Linked DNA regions of Homo sapiens. The protein of the gene in region 2 interacts with the protein of the main gene of each other region in a biochemical or structural test. Each region holds a gene or a part of one and is shown on either strand. Other genes may lie near its edges.

Region 1 (7,149 bases), on a different chromosome or scaffold from region 2:
TTCTCTTTTTCTGAGTAGGGTCACTAAGTATGGGGCAACAGTCTAAGCAAAGTTATAGTAGATTCTATAATGAAAGTTATCTTTGATATTTTCTTCTTGAAGGTAGGAACATGAATTGGACGTAAAGTTGCTTCAGAGCCTTTAATTTCCCAACCTTCATTACTCCAAAAAGAAAGGAAATATTTATTGAGAGTCTACTATGTTGGAGATACTTCAGTGGGATTAAATTGAACACATTTAAAATGTATTTCCTACTAATAAAGATAATTTTCAATGTGAGAGCCGCCACTAGGGGGGGTTGATTTTTCTTAATAAATTCAACTCAAGATTGAAAGAGCTTCAGGTTACAATTGTCACCTACTTTACTCCAAAATTTTATGGAATACTTATATTCCATAAAATTTATATTTAATTGGCTGTCTTTTTAAACAGTCCTATAATAATGCTACAGCATATTTTATCTGTAAATAAAATAAAATGGCTCTCATTTAAGAGGTCAAAGTTAAGTAGGTCTGGATAGCATTTTCAGCTCAAAACAAGATCTATTTTCCCCAATGTTGGCATGTTTTGGGGCTCATTAGGCCACAAACTGGTAGTTTAATTTTAAAACTCAAATTTAATACTAGGTTTAATGACTTCATTTCTAAAATAAACTTTGATTAACTGCATTATAAAGTTAACAATTTTTCATTCAGGTAAAAATAATTTATATAAACACTTTCACTTGATAATGAAAATGCCAGCACTAGCCTATTCTTACAGAGCAAGCTGGTAATATTTAAGGCATCTGTATGATTAGAAGCAATATACGGTGCTCAGCAGAGATCTGATAAACATCTATGCTAACAAAATGTGGGTGAATGGAAAAAATACTTTTGTTATATTATAAGAAATTAATACAAGTATATTAAAAACTAAGTAAGTATAATATTAGGATAATCTAATAAAAAGTACATTTTACGCAAAATAACCAAAATCCATAAATGTTAAACTGTGTAATGAATACAAAATTATGGCATTTGTTTTTGTTTACAAAGCCATCCAGGTCCTTTGATAACACCCTAACTGAAACCCAGTATCTTAAAAACACATCAGGGAGATCTTCATGTTTTCTCACCATACACATAAAACCCATGACACCCCTATTATATATGATGCTAAGTGTATTATTATATTAATAAACACATAGAACAGACATTTGGGATGCCTCCCAACTTTAACCATCAATGACAATGTCAAATAAGACAAACATACTTTAATATAAGAAACCATTCTACAAAATTAAAAGTATTAATAACCGATGTCTCAAACTGCCAAGGTAGAAAACTGCTGGTTTGACAATATTCCCTTAAGACACACTGTACCATAAAACTTCCAAATTTTCATCAGTCTATTTATAGATTATTATCCTCTGTTAATGCCAATTCATAAGTATACTTCTGAAGAACTATGATAACTGAAATTCTGAAAGGAAACTAAAATTTTAGAATGAAACTTTAAACCAATAACTGGTTTTAAATGTAAATCTTAAAGTGTTATTTTTCTGGTTCCCATTAGTGATAGTTGGAGTCTAAGCAAAATGCACACTTCTGATTTGGTCTGAGAAGACGTTTAAGAGTTCTTAAAATTGTTTACGAAAACTTGAAACACATGTAGGTAAAGTAACTCAGAGATCTAGAAATAAAAAAATTGGAATAAACACATGAATACAACCACCTCACAACAGGAAATGTTTTGAGCACGGATAGTTTTTTCTGACACACACAAAAAATTGGCCATCTCACACAAATATTCCACCAAAATCAACCGACAACGACAAAAGCAAGTTTGTACTCACTCAACTAGAAGAAAACTTTGAAGGGGAAAAGAATTAGAGGTAGATGTTAAGAATGAAAACCTCTCTCAAATGCAGTTCTAAATCTTTTATTTTACAGACCCTAAAGCCACCCCAAAAGTGATAAGCAAGCTTCCGAAAAAGATGTCTGAAGAATACAAATCCTCCACCGTATCCTGTCCGTTGCATCCACTCCCACCTGCTACCACTTCTATCCACTTTACCGATATGGTCACGATGAGCGCTACAAAATTGCTGCCAAATAAGTAAATATGAGCGCAACACAAAGCCAGTTGGTGGGGACCAAAAAGTACCTTTAGAGGCACTCAGCCCCTTCGTAAAAGTCAGCATGTGTTTAGCTCTTTAAAACATCTCGCCTTACCAAACTCTACGAAGAATGAGAATTAAGACCGTCCTCTAACCTAACCCATGCGGATATGAAAAGTGGAAGGAGATTTCAAGACAGGTTTATACTAACTAATCCATTAGCCCAAGGCAGATCAGAGCTGTCAACAAATCAGGACCAAATCAGAAAGAACAAAGTTGCAAATGTGAGAGGGTGTGTATGCACTGGTGCGGGGGAAGAGGATGGGTGGGAGGACAATTTTTAAAATGCAATCATTGAAAACGGGAGAATCCAAGTCCTCTGTCTCCCAGCCGGCCTCCAAACCTCGATTCCACGGGCAGTGCCGGGAATGGACCTAATCCCAGGATCGCAGGGATTTGGGGGCGGGGTGGGGCTGCCTCCCGCACCCGCGTGCCTGAGCGCCCAGCCCCCGCGATGAGGACGCGCTCGGGACACTCACGTTTTCTGCACCGGCTTCCGCCGCTTGCGACTGGCGTAGGTGATGTTGGCGCTGCTGCTGTTCATGGTGCCCAGCCGACGGCGGCGGCTACTCCCCGGGCACTGGCGGCCGGGTCCCCGGAACCCGGTGTAGGCTGGGACCACTGCGGCGGCCGGCGCCGGGTTCCGCGAAGCCGCGCCCGCTCCACCTGCGTCCTCTCGGGACAGTGGCGTGGGCGCCGCGCCTCAACGCCTCGGCTCACGCAGGCTTCCGCAGCCCGCGCCAGTACAGGTGAGCTGCCTGGGCCTGGCGCAGTGAGGGTGGGCGAGGGGCGGAGACCCGCGAGCAAGGCGGCGCAGGTGCCGTCTACACCGGCGGAGGCGGCGCGGCAATGCCCGCAGGTGAGGCGGCCCGGGCGGAGGAGGAGCCTGGGCCGTCTATTTAGAATCCTGGCCTGGGTCGCTCACGGTGGCGCCGCGCCCCGTGACCGTCGCCGCGGCCCCTTGGGTGAGGGAGGTGCCGCCGCGCTGCTCCCGGGACTTCCTAAATCCAGGGTGCTTCCCGCCTGCGGAGCTCGGGCGCGGGCCACCAGTCCCGGCTGCTCCCAGCTTCCGTTCGGCTACACGGCTGCCCCTGTTCTGAGCTGGCGGTCCGGGGCACGCTCTCGGAACAGAGCGTCGACGGGACTCCCCAGCCACTGCCTCCCGCCGCCGCGCGCACCGGCTGAATAGCAGGAGCACCCCCGACCCCTCACCGGCCCCGCCCCGCCCAGATCCCGCGTAGCCCCGCCCCGTCCTGCTTGCCCCCGCCCATCTGGATTCCATTCCGTCTTCCTTGAGGGCCCCACCCTCATCCCGGCACGTGATGACGTAGGACGTAAGGACGCCCCCCCCCGCCGGTAGCCATCTTCGTGCATAGGCAAACTTATTGTAGCTAGACTGTACAAAGTATATCAAGATATGCCAAATATTGAGCTTAACTTCACCTGTTTGAGAGACGGTGGGTCAGCTAACTTGTGGCTAAGAATTACAATTAACTGGTAGACAACTGGTAGACAACCAATGGGACTGTATATTTTCCTAGTTGGGAAGGCTTCAGAAGGCCAGATTTGAGTTGAGACTTGAAGGCTAGGAGTTTCCTTGACCTTTTTTGGTGTGCGGGGGAAGTCTTTACAATAGACAGGAATATAGATAATAAGGGGACTATTATGTATTGTGTCATGGAGGACCATGTGGAAAAATATTGGGAGTAATTAACAATATTGAATACTGTTGAGAAATTCAAATTAGTTGAGAACTGAAAATGTCATTCTTGTTTTCTCAATGTGTAGTCACTGATGACTTTCGTGAATGCAGTGTTGGGGTAATGGGCCTGCAAATAACATTGAAGTGGGTACAGGATTGAGCTGAAGATAACAAAATGGCATCCTCAAGCAGGCAATTTTTCTTCCAAGTTTAGCTGTGGATGAGAGACACATCAGATTGTATGTAGGGGGAGTGAAGGGTTAAATGAGGGTTTTCTAGTTTTGGTTTAGTTCTTTAATGGGCGATACTGAGCGGCTTAGAGGGGGTAGAGATAAACTATGTAGGGAACCTGAGGGAAGAGTGAAGGAATGATAGATATTAAGATACCGAAAGCAGGAGGGAATGAGTGCCAAAGCATAAATGGGAGATTAGGACTAATAGATTAGATACTAACAGAAACAGCACTTACAGTGCTTTGCTATTCAGAGTACTCCACAGCTTCTTTTGAGAGTTACAGGAAATGCAGACTCTTTGGGTGTCCTTATTAAATCAGAACCCGAAGTTCACAGGAACTCCCAGGTGATTCAAATGTACATAAAGTTGGAGGAGCAGTTCTCTACCATAGCTGGAGGAAAGAAGGACAGTGGGTGAGATATAGTAGGCTACTAAATTTTGGATCAGAAAAATGAAGGAGATGTAACAAAGAGGGTATTCTAGCATGAGCTACAAAAGAACAATTGTGTTTTGTGGTCGATGATCTTTGTTTTAATTTTAGAAGAGCATAAAGTGAAAGTGATCTGGGAAGTGACAACAAGGAAGTAGATGGACATCCACCCTGTATCCTGTGATAAGAGAAAATAATTAGGCAGTATTGGGGAGACCTTTAGGAAAGTGATAGCCTCAGTAAGCCACCTTTCAGTTTAAGGAAAAAGATGGAGCAAATTCCCAAAGAAGACAGTGTACACTGGGAAAGTTTGATGTTTATGAATTAGCAATTGCAGAGGCAGAATCAACCATCTCTATTTTTCCCTTCTCTTTCATTTCTTCATTTATCTGTGCTTACTTATAGCCATTCTATCTAAAACGTGTAAGTGTAAAAGAATAATTTCCTCCTAGCTAGGAACTTTAAGGGTGAAAAATTTATATCAAAACATAATTTATTGATTCTGTAGCTTATAACTCCTCTTCATAAAAGAGATGTACTAAATGCAATGAACCAATCTTAATTTAGTGATTTAAAAAAATCCTACCCTTTTTAAGGTTGTTGGCTATTTGGTGCAGTCATTTTCTACCTTATTTTGACTTTCATACCCTTATTTTTTTATGGTTAAGTTTAGGATTATTTTCATTATCCAGAAGTCATATGCTATATTATGTTACATAGTCTTAGTTAAGTAACAGATCTTTGCATAATTAAGATTAAAATTGAATATCAACAAAATTCCCAGAATTCATTTTATTTTAATAGTGACATGAACTTACCTTAACAGTTTTGCTGGCATGTGAATACAGTATAGTGTAGTGCCATTTTTAAAAAATGAGCTGCCATTATCTAGAAACTTCCTGTATTGGCACTGTGGAACATGGTTCTCAAAGTATGGTTTGTGTCCATCTGCTAAGATTTAAAAACTTTTTTGTGAGCAGTTTTTTTTTTTGTAGTTACGTGATTTTTATCTCATAATAATTAATTTGGCTATAAGAGTCGGTGAACATTTGATTACCTTATCCAAAGAACATCCTTTTAATCAATTGGGTTGAGCTTAGTTTCTGAGGTTTCAGATGCAGCTGTATGTGTATGGGTTTCTTTCTCCTGCGAAATAGTATGAGAAAAATGTTTTAGGAATGCTATTATAAATATCAGCTGTTCTTGAATAAAGGAAAATAATCAAAATGAATGCTAAACCTATTCTATCACAGTTCATTTCACTAAGCAAGATTTTAGCCCCTATAATATACCAGACACTGTGGGTTACAGTAGTGATATCAGACATGTTCTTTCCTCTTAGAGCTTACATTCTAATGAGAGAGACAAGAATTAACCAGATAGTTACACAAATGAATGTATAATTACAACTGGGACAAGTACTGTGAAATGAATACTGTGAGAATGTATAATAGGTGGATTTAACTTGGTAAGGGTAACTTGGTAACCTCCCTGAGGGAGCTTGAGCTGAGTTTTGAGGCATAGGTAGGCATTTTATAGGTAGGCATAGGTAGGCATTTTATAGGTGACCTGGGGAGGAAGGGGAATTTCATGCAGACTGAACATGTATCACTTTTTAATCTCCTCTTCAATTCTGCAGCTCCTTACTTCAGGCCCTCAGAATTGTCTTTTACAGTTTACAACACACATTGTAGCTATATGAAGTATTTTACAGAGGGTAGTCCATGCTTCCTAAACTATGTACTGAGGCACCCCAGGAGCACCACAACAAACTCACAGGGGCACTATCATGGGATATTTTAAATTTTCAAGGCCAACACAGTGACATCAGTTGGACACCGTGCAAACCACTATCTTGAGGTAGTTCAGAACTTCTACACATTAAATTGTACTTCATTCCTTTTGACATCGTATCTTTGTGAGGCTGTGTTTTTGTAAATTGCTGTAATAAAACACAAGGACTATGGGAAAATTACTGTAGAACAGGAATGAGGGTAGCGGTTTCCAAGTTTATTCCTAAGTTTGAGAAGTTATGAAGTGCCCAACAGATGTGCACATCCCATTAAGAATAAAAAATGTTAATGTATATTATTTTTTAAATAGCTACTAAGTTGTTAGGATAGACAAACATAAGTTTGGGTTTAACTGTTTAATAAATGGAACTGTTAGGTGTTTCTTTTAGCTTGCAACACCATGAAAAAATTACTGAGACACTAGGAATGCTGTGAACTGAGAAAGTTTGGGACCTTTGGCATAACTAAATCCTTCATTTAACAGGTGAGAAACTTCAGGCCCAGAGAGATCAAGTGCCCTGCTAATCATAGCCTAGAATCTGGGTCTTGTGACTTCTGCCCCAGTCTAAAATGTATAACTTATCTGACTTTGAACTGTTCTGATTCATTTATTAAAAATAATCAGTTTACACATTGCTTGCTTTTACTCCTAACACTGAAGAACAGACATAGACATCTAAGGGCTGTTTCTAAATGCTTAATGTCTTCTTTACTTGCTTGGATACAACAATGTCATAGAAGCCACAGAGAAGTAATTAATAGATAATGCTAATCTTAATTCTGACAAAGAAACTACAAGATAGGAATAATTTGTTATTAGTCAAAATTA
Region 2 (7,983 bases):
CATAGGTCTATCCACAAAAGGACACTTACATTTTTCTCAAAACTCAAGATATTATCATAATTAACCAGTAGACAAATGACCCCAGTTTGTGAAAATGAGCCACTGCCTTAAATACTATTAAATAATAAACTCTCTTCTGCCTCTTTAGTTGCAGGATGGCTACTCGTATCCCTCCACACATGATCATCAGTATTTGCCTCCTGTGTCCCAACCGGCCTGAGTCAAGTAAGTGTATGAAAAGAGGTGTTTCTCTCTGCGCTAGAGAAAGAAGGATAGGTTCACTAAAGAGTGAATTTTCTTGGTGCTAGTAGCCTAAGCTCATCACTTAATGCATAAAACTCCTCTCCCACAGCTTTTGAGAGACCTTCCAAAGACATTTCAATATTTTCAATAGCTCCAAGGTCATTACTTAACCAGTTTTGAAACTACACTCAAAACTTACAAATTTTGTTAAAGAGTAAGCAACTCCCAAATTCTCCTAAGTGACTTCATCCTGTTATTTATACATCACATATGTACATATACATTCCTATAATCAAGTAATTCTAAATTTGGGACAAAATATCATACACAATAATCATTGTCTTTTTTTTTTTTTTTTTTTTTGAGATGAAGTCCGGCTCCGTCGCCCAGGCTGGAGTGCATAAGCGCGATCTGAGCGCAGCGCAACCTCTCCCTCTCGGGTTCAAGTGATTCTCCTGCCTCAGCCTCCCAAGTAGGTGGGATACAGGCATGTGCCACCATACCCAGCTAAGTTTTGTATTTTTAGTAGAGACAGAGTTTCATCGTGTTGGCCAGGCTTGTCTCAAACTCCTGACCTCAAGTGATCCACCCTCCTCGGCCTCCCAAAGTGCTGGGATTACAGGTGTGAAAATAGGCCAGGCGCAGGGGCTCATGTCTGTAGTCCCAGCACTTTGGCAGACTGAGGCAGATGGATTGCTTGAGCCTAGGAGTTTGGGACCAGCCTGGGCAACATGGCGAAACTCCATCTCTACAAAAAATACAAAAATTAGCCGGGTGTGGTGGTACATGACTGTAGTCCCAGCTACTTGGGAGGCTGAGGTGGGAAGATCAATGGAGCTGGGAGTTGGAGGTTGCACTCTAGCCTGGGTGACCTAATGAGACCCTGTCTGGAAGAAAAAAAAAAAAAAACAGAAAAGAAAATACAGTAGAGCTCTAGATCAACCAGAGACTCAGGAGCCTTTCATTTGGGCAATGTTACAGCAATATTTGCCAATATTTTTAGAATTCTAGTTTCATGAGACATTACTAGTGTTGTATTCAAAAACAGAAATACTAATCATGCTTCTTCATTACAAGAATTGTCTTTAGATAGATAGGTAAGAAAAATACCGAACACATTTGCAGGATTGCCACTGTTTGGCAATGTTTCTCTAAGCCCGCCTACCTTAGCCCTCTAGAAAATCACTTGGGAGAAATCCTGTTGCCTGAACCCAGAGATCCAGCTGCCTCCCACAGGCTCAGCGAAACAAACAAATGGCGGAGTGAAGTGATCCCTCTCTTCTTCCTTTAAGAGAGGAAGGGATCTCTGCTTCTCTTATCTACTCCAAAGTCTCATCATACAAAGGTTGTTTATTCCTGCAAAAGTTAAATGACAAATCCACCTAAATTATCCTCCAATGGCCCATACCCTTCAACAGAGAAAGGCCAGTTTTCATATTTAAAGGTGGCCCTCACAGCCATAAAATCAGTGTGGTATTATATTTTTTCATTAATTCAGCATTTACCAAGTAACTTCCGCAGCCAAGAACAGTGAAAAGTGTTAGGGATACCATTTTTAAAAACTTTATCATAATAAAGTATATTATTCTAGTAATACCTTTGATTGATGGCCACATTCTAGACTTTAAGAACCACTTGGGATTATCTCCTTTAATTCCTATATCCACCCTATAAAGTTGGTACTGTTACCATTCTTTATGGATAAAGCATATCCTTTACGGATAAAGCAACTGAGGTTAAGTAGTTTACCCAAGGTCAGCACGTGGTGGAGCTGTAGTCTGAAGCCAGAGCCTGAATTCTTAAAGATTACCATGTTCTTAAGAAGTACACTTTCTACTGAGGTTTGATCTGTAGTATACTAAGATTTCCCAAATTATTTCATGTATTATATCTTATCTCCCAATTAAAATTTGACCTTCTATTTAGGGCAGCACTGTTCAAAAGGATTTTCTGCAATAATGAAAATGTTCTAGTTTGTGCTATCCAAAAGCACAGTCTAGCCATAATTTAAATTTAAACGGCTACAAGTAGCTAAGGCATACAGTACTGGACAACACATGCAAGGAAGAGTTTCATTTCTTCCGATTTATCTATAAAGCCAAGGCTTAGGTAAATCAGTTAATGGAAAGGAACAAGTGAAGAATCTTTAGGAGGAGTTTGTACTCCCTTAGCTGGGGAGCAGAAATCTTTATTATATCAGGACTTTCAGTATAATAAAAATGTTATAAGAAGCATATGATACAGCATGCAGTCCTAGAGGAGTTCATAAAGATGGATTCTTACATTCCTTGCAATATCTTTGGAAGACCTTTTTTTTTTTTTTGAGATGGAGTTTCGCTCTGTCACCAGGCTGGAGTGCAGTGGTGCAATCTCCGCTCGCTGCAACCTCTGCATCCCGGTTTCTAGTGAATCTCCTGCCTCAGCCTCCCAAGTAGCTGGGACTACAGGACCCACCACACCCAGCTAATTTTTTTTTTTTTTTTTGTATTTTTAGTAGAGATGCGGTTTCACCATGTTGGCCAGGATGGTCTCGATCTCTTGACCTCGTGATCCGCCCGCCTCGGCCTCCCAAAGTGCTGGGATTACAAGCGTGAGCCACTGCGCCTGGCCAGAAGACTGACGTTTTATAATTGATGGTCACAACTTTAAAAATTCATACTCAGTTATAGGTTTTTGTCTAATAAAAACATCACTGCTTAATTTATTTACAAAACATGGAGTCCATAGAGAGAAAAACAACAGGGGCCTCTTGATAGTAAAAGGATGAGAAACAGGGAAAACTTGTAAGTCAATGGACACTTCCTTCAGAAACTACATTCAAAACTTAAAAATTTTGTTAAAGAGTAAGCAACTGCCAAATTCTCCTAAGTGACTTCAACGTGTTACTTATACATCAGATATGTACATACATATTCCTATAATCAAGTAATTCTAAGTTTGGGAAAATATCATAAATAATAATAGTTATCTTTTGAAAATAAAGTGGGGCTCTAGATCAACCAGTGTCAGGAAGCAGCCAAGTCACACCCCACTGGGTGCTTCCTGGACAAGCGCAGTGCAGCTCCCACAGGGCCTCACACCCAACCTTCAATTTGCTTAAAAGAACTATCTCAAAAAATCTTAGCTATTTAGTCACAATTTGTCCTTGCCAGGGAACATGTTTTTCTTTTGCCTGATTTTCAATAACCTTAGATTGCAAAATCATAAAAGCACTCATCAAAGAACTGTGAGAGCAGCTCAGCTTCCCTGGAGATCTCAAACCATGTTCCTTTGATACAATGCAATCAGCTCTTTATACTTTAGGAACCTAATTTTCCCTTACTAAATGCTAAACAATTTACAAATAACACAATGGCTACAGAAAAAAAAAATCCAACATCTTTACATTCAAATCCCAAAGATATAAACCTGACGTCTAAATTAATACGTGCTTAGTGCAAAACTGGGCAATTATTCCACATTTGCAAGACAGTATAACATGACCACCTGCTGCTGAAATGCCAAAGCCACCACTGTTAACGCTTTGCTCCGCCTTCCAGAGAGGTTATTACAGCTTAAGCTGCGTCAACAACCCAGAGGAGGCTGCTATCTAGTTTATCTGTGTGGAAGGCCTGTAACACACTGTTAACAGAGTAGTTGCAGGCCCTTCCTTGGGATATTTTTCTGCGTATAAGAGTGAATGAACTCCACGGCCAGATCCTCCTAGTCATGTTGCAGTGCTGGTCATGGGACCGCAGAGGGAACAGCACCCAACTGGGGATGGGGAGCTCACAGGCACAGGCCCCGCAGCTGATGCAAACCTTCCCCCTCCAAGGTTCTCTCGAGTCTCTGCCAAGAGTCGGCTGGAGGGCCCAACTGCTATGTTCTTATTGCTGTAATGACTGCAATTTGGCAGCATCCAGGATGGTGTACCGGGAACGGGAGGGGGAAGGAGATGGTGGGCCCCTCTGTTAAACGCAACGCCAGAAGGGACACAGGATGAATTTATTGTGGCCATCGGTCCTGAGCTGGAAGGAAAGTCAAAGGGCTTTAAAGCTGGGGAAAAGCTCTAACTCCTGCTCTGCTGTCAAAGCCTTACTTCCCACGAAGAGTAGGGGCCAGGCGGGCCAACTGTAAGGGGGAAGCGGCCCGGGGTGAGGTAAGAGGACCCTCCTAGGTGCCGCTGCCAGGCGGCGGTTCGCTGGGGCAGCAAGGCGCCCGCACTCGGGAGGCGCCACAAAGGGCCGAGGCCTGCGGAGGCCGCACGCGCAGCTCTCCGGGGCGGAGCCGCCGGGATCGCGGCAGCGGAGGCTGCAGCAGCCGCGGGTAGCCGGGGTGCCCAGCCTCCCAGCTCGGAGGTCGCGGGGGGCGGGGAGGATGCCGCAACTGCAGTCCGAGCGGCAGAGCCCGGCGCGAGCTCCCAGGCCCCCGCAACCGCTGTGAGGCGCAGCGCGCGCCACTGGCCGGGAGGAGCTAGAGGCGGGCGTCTGCACAGCGTCGCGCCACCCGTGACTGCCCGCCTTCAGCCGGGCCCGGGACCCCGTAGCGGCCCATGCCCTGACGGGGGGCGCAGCTGCGGGGCTGGCGAGGCGTCGCGCGTGGGAAGAGGCCTAAGACACCCCGACTGCGGCGGCTGCGCACACCCGATCCGGACGCGGGGCCCCGCGGGCGCGCGCCTCGGAGCTCCCGCCTCCTCCTCTTGCTCCTCCTCGGCGTACGGTCCTCCCCTGACCCCTCCTTCCACCCGCCGAGAGGATGCGCTCCCCGGCGCCCAGCAGCAGAGGCCACCGCTCCCAGAAATGCATGCGACCGATCCCCTTCTCCCGGACCCCAGGAGCCGGCGCCCCCGCCCTGTAGGTAGGTGGTGAGGCGGGGCCCAGCCCTCGCCGCCGCCCGCCGCTGATGCTGCCGCCGAGAGGCCGCGAGCAGGGTCCAGGACCGGCCAAACTTGCCTCCCGCCGGGGGCTCGGTGGAGCGCTCGGAGGTGTGCTAATGGCGCTGGGCGTAGCCCCCTGTGAACCTGAAAACCTCTGCTTGAGCTCGGGAGGCCGAGCGGGGGCGAAGGAGAGATTGACCCTTCCCCGCCCACCCCTTGGGGGGCTCGTGGGGGTGCGCGCCAGTACGAGAGTGGGGAGGACAGGTTGGCATGGGGCTTATTTGGGGAGAAGACCGTTGGATTTTCAGCAGCTCAGGTGGAAATATGTCACTGTGTTTTTCCGGCTGGATTAGCAGATGCGTTCTTCCCATCTTTCTAGCCAAAACATGTAGACAGGCAAAGGGTTATTAGTGGCATGTAGAAGTCGCTGTGGATTTTTGTGTATTTCAGAGCTAGCTAGTTGGTATATAAAATCGATGGGGCAAACCCTTACCGTCAACACGTTAGGGCCAATTTAGAGAAGGTCCTTCTAGAAGTCAGATTATTCTGGAGATCGATGAGGCTGGGATATTGTTGTGCTGAGTATTTAGGAGCCTCTGCTTACGTGAAGGGATGTGTTTTAAGAGTGGCAACTTTGATACAGGTGTCGGGAGTTGAGATTCTGCTGGAAAGATGTACCGGGTCAGCCAGCAGAGGCAGCCTTGTGCCCAGCCTAACTTCCAACTCGATGTTATGCTCTGTATTTCTCAGAAACTGGTTATGTATTAATGCTTTTTTTCTCCTCTAGGTGTAAAGTTTATACATCAGAGCTTTTGGCAAGATTCCCTCTTCCCAGACTATCATTTTTTATTTTATATTCAGCAATAAGGCTTAAAGTTTTGAAAAATGCATCACTGTAAGCTCCAATTTTATAGTCACTTAGGTATAGAGATTTGGAGAAGTGACTCAGTATAAGCTCAAATAGGACAGAATCTTGAATCTGTTTTTTTTTAAATCCTGTAATCTTCTGCATCTTATGCAGAATAAGTACCCATTAGTTATTTGTTGAATGAATGAACTGTGTTTCAAGCTTTCATCTAAAAACCACAATTTAGAATCACAGAATTGTTCTGTAGCCGGTGAAATTTAATTGAATTTCAAAAATTGCCTCTTTGTATAAATAGGCAAACTCAGTTATTTTAACATTTATATTTCAATTCTGACATCTTTAGGACCATATGCTATCTTTCTGTAATATGTCATCAAGGTTATGAGGTAATTCTCCCCAACTCTTAAGTTCATTTCATGTCTAAGCTTGCAAAATTTCCAGTCTCACTGGTAATCATGCCAACTTCAACTGTGCTCTCAAACACAATTTAAAAAGTAAAAGTCGTGTTTTAAAGAAAATTGTAAGTTACGCCAGAGGAAACAATGATTTGGTTAATAAGTGATGTATTCACTTATTTTAGAGTTGAGTTTTTCAGGTTTGATCTAATTATCATGTCTTTTATCACAGGCAAAAGTAGAAATAAAACATGTAGAAGTGTCTGTGATTCTTAAATGATTCAAAATGTGTGATATAGATACACAATTTAAACTGTTTTCTCCTCGGTATAGAAACACATCAGTTTCCAAATTTGACAGCCAGGGGATTGTGAAATGAGGGTTTGCAAGATACAGTGTCTTCCTGCTTTAAAATGTTATATCATTTTGAAAAAAAAAAAGAAAAACAAGGTTAACTGCATCAAACTTTATTTGCTTTATTTTTACACTATGACATTTTCTGTTTTGATTTCATCTTTTTTCCATCACATGAATTTCATGAGTCAGTGTGAACTTCTTTCAGTCTCTGCTTAACAATATTATCTGGGCATGCTCCCAGGTTTTCTTTCTGACATTTTAATGCATCTTTACCATCTTCACTTCATATTACTCAAATGACTTATTTTTACACAATATGGTAGGCCATACTTTATTACTATTGCTTCTCCAACCTACTTATTTTCTTCCTAGATGGATAAGGAAATAAAACTTTCCTATAAAAGTTAATAAGACTGCAGGAACCAACAGTGGGAGGGAACTTATGAAAAAAATTAATTTGTTATGATTTATTAAAACAAAGCCAAAATTCCCTCCTGTAATAAAGATAATTACATTTTACACTTCTTAAATTTGTAACCCAGGGTATTGAGCAATTAATTTACCTGGCTCTTCCTTGCACACTTTAAGCTTTTCAAAAAAGCCCTCCCCTTTGGTTACAGTAAGCTCTCTTTACCTTGTTACTTATAAGCACTTATTTGTTCATTTTACAAGTAGGAGTTGAGCCTTTAACTGCTCAGTTTAACTGCTATTACTTTGGCTTTGGAATCACAGTCAAATAAAAGCTCTAATCTCAGATTTGAAGAGGTATTTTTCTCTTCTGTGTGTCCTACAACCAAATGCGCAGTGCCTCTGGGATTGGTTGACTCACTTTTGGGTCCTACCTCCTGATCCCCCAGCACTCCGCCCCCACAAGCACCACCAGAATGCAATCCAAGACCTGGATTTCCTCTCTTTATCTTCCTAAAGGCTGTATTTTAGAAACCTCTATTCCTTTCTTGCTAAATGCCATTTACTATTGTTTTTAAAATCCCAGCCCATAATTTTTTGTTTGTTTAAATTCAACAGGATCCACTCAATTCACTTGTGCTAAAATCAGAATTGTTGATTGCAGAAAAAAATATACAGAAGTAAATTTGTATGACCTTGAATTTCAGATATAGTGAATACATAAAGAGTGATTGTTGTCTACTGGTCTCCCCTCAACAGTGATACAAAATGCATTTGTTTCTGTACATGCCAGAGAATATGAATTTTCTGTTGCTAAATTTGATCAGAAGCTTAATTGAGAGAAATGATGTTTACGG

What was found. The genes of interacting proteins can lie anywhere in the genome.
Region 1: the proteins of NCOA7 (region 2) and AHR form a complex in vitro, tested with the Homo sapiens proteins (one study listed by BioGRID).

The regions. Positions count from the first base shown.
Region 1 is NC_000007.14:17,294,821-17,301,969, reverse strand, and holds the start of AHR (aryl hydrocarbon receptor), read right to left. Parts: upstream 3,319-7,149; 5' UTR 2,706-3,318; coding exon 2,641-2,705; intron 1-2,640. UniProt on the Homo sapiens protein: Ligand-activated transcription factor that enables cells to adapt to changing conditions by sensing compounds from the environment, diet, microbiome and cellular metabolism, and which plays important roles in development, immunity and cancer.
Region 2 is NC_000006.12:125,785,989-125,793,971, forward strand, and holds the start of NCOA7 (nuclear receptor coactivator 7), read left to right. Parts: upstream 1-4,971; 5' UTR 4,972-5,079; exon of another isoform or gene 5,080-5,206; intron 5,207-7,983. UniProt on the Homo sapiens protein: Enhances the transcriptional activities of several nuclear receptors. Involved in the coactivation of different nuclear receptors, such as ESR1, THRB, PPARG and RARA.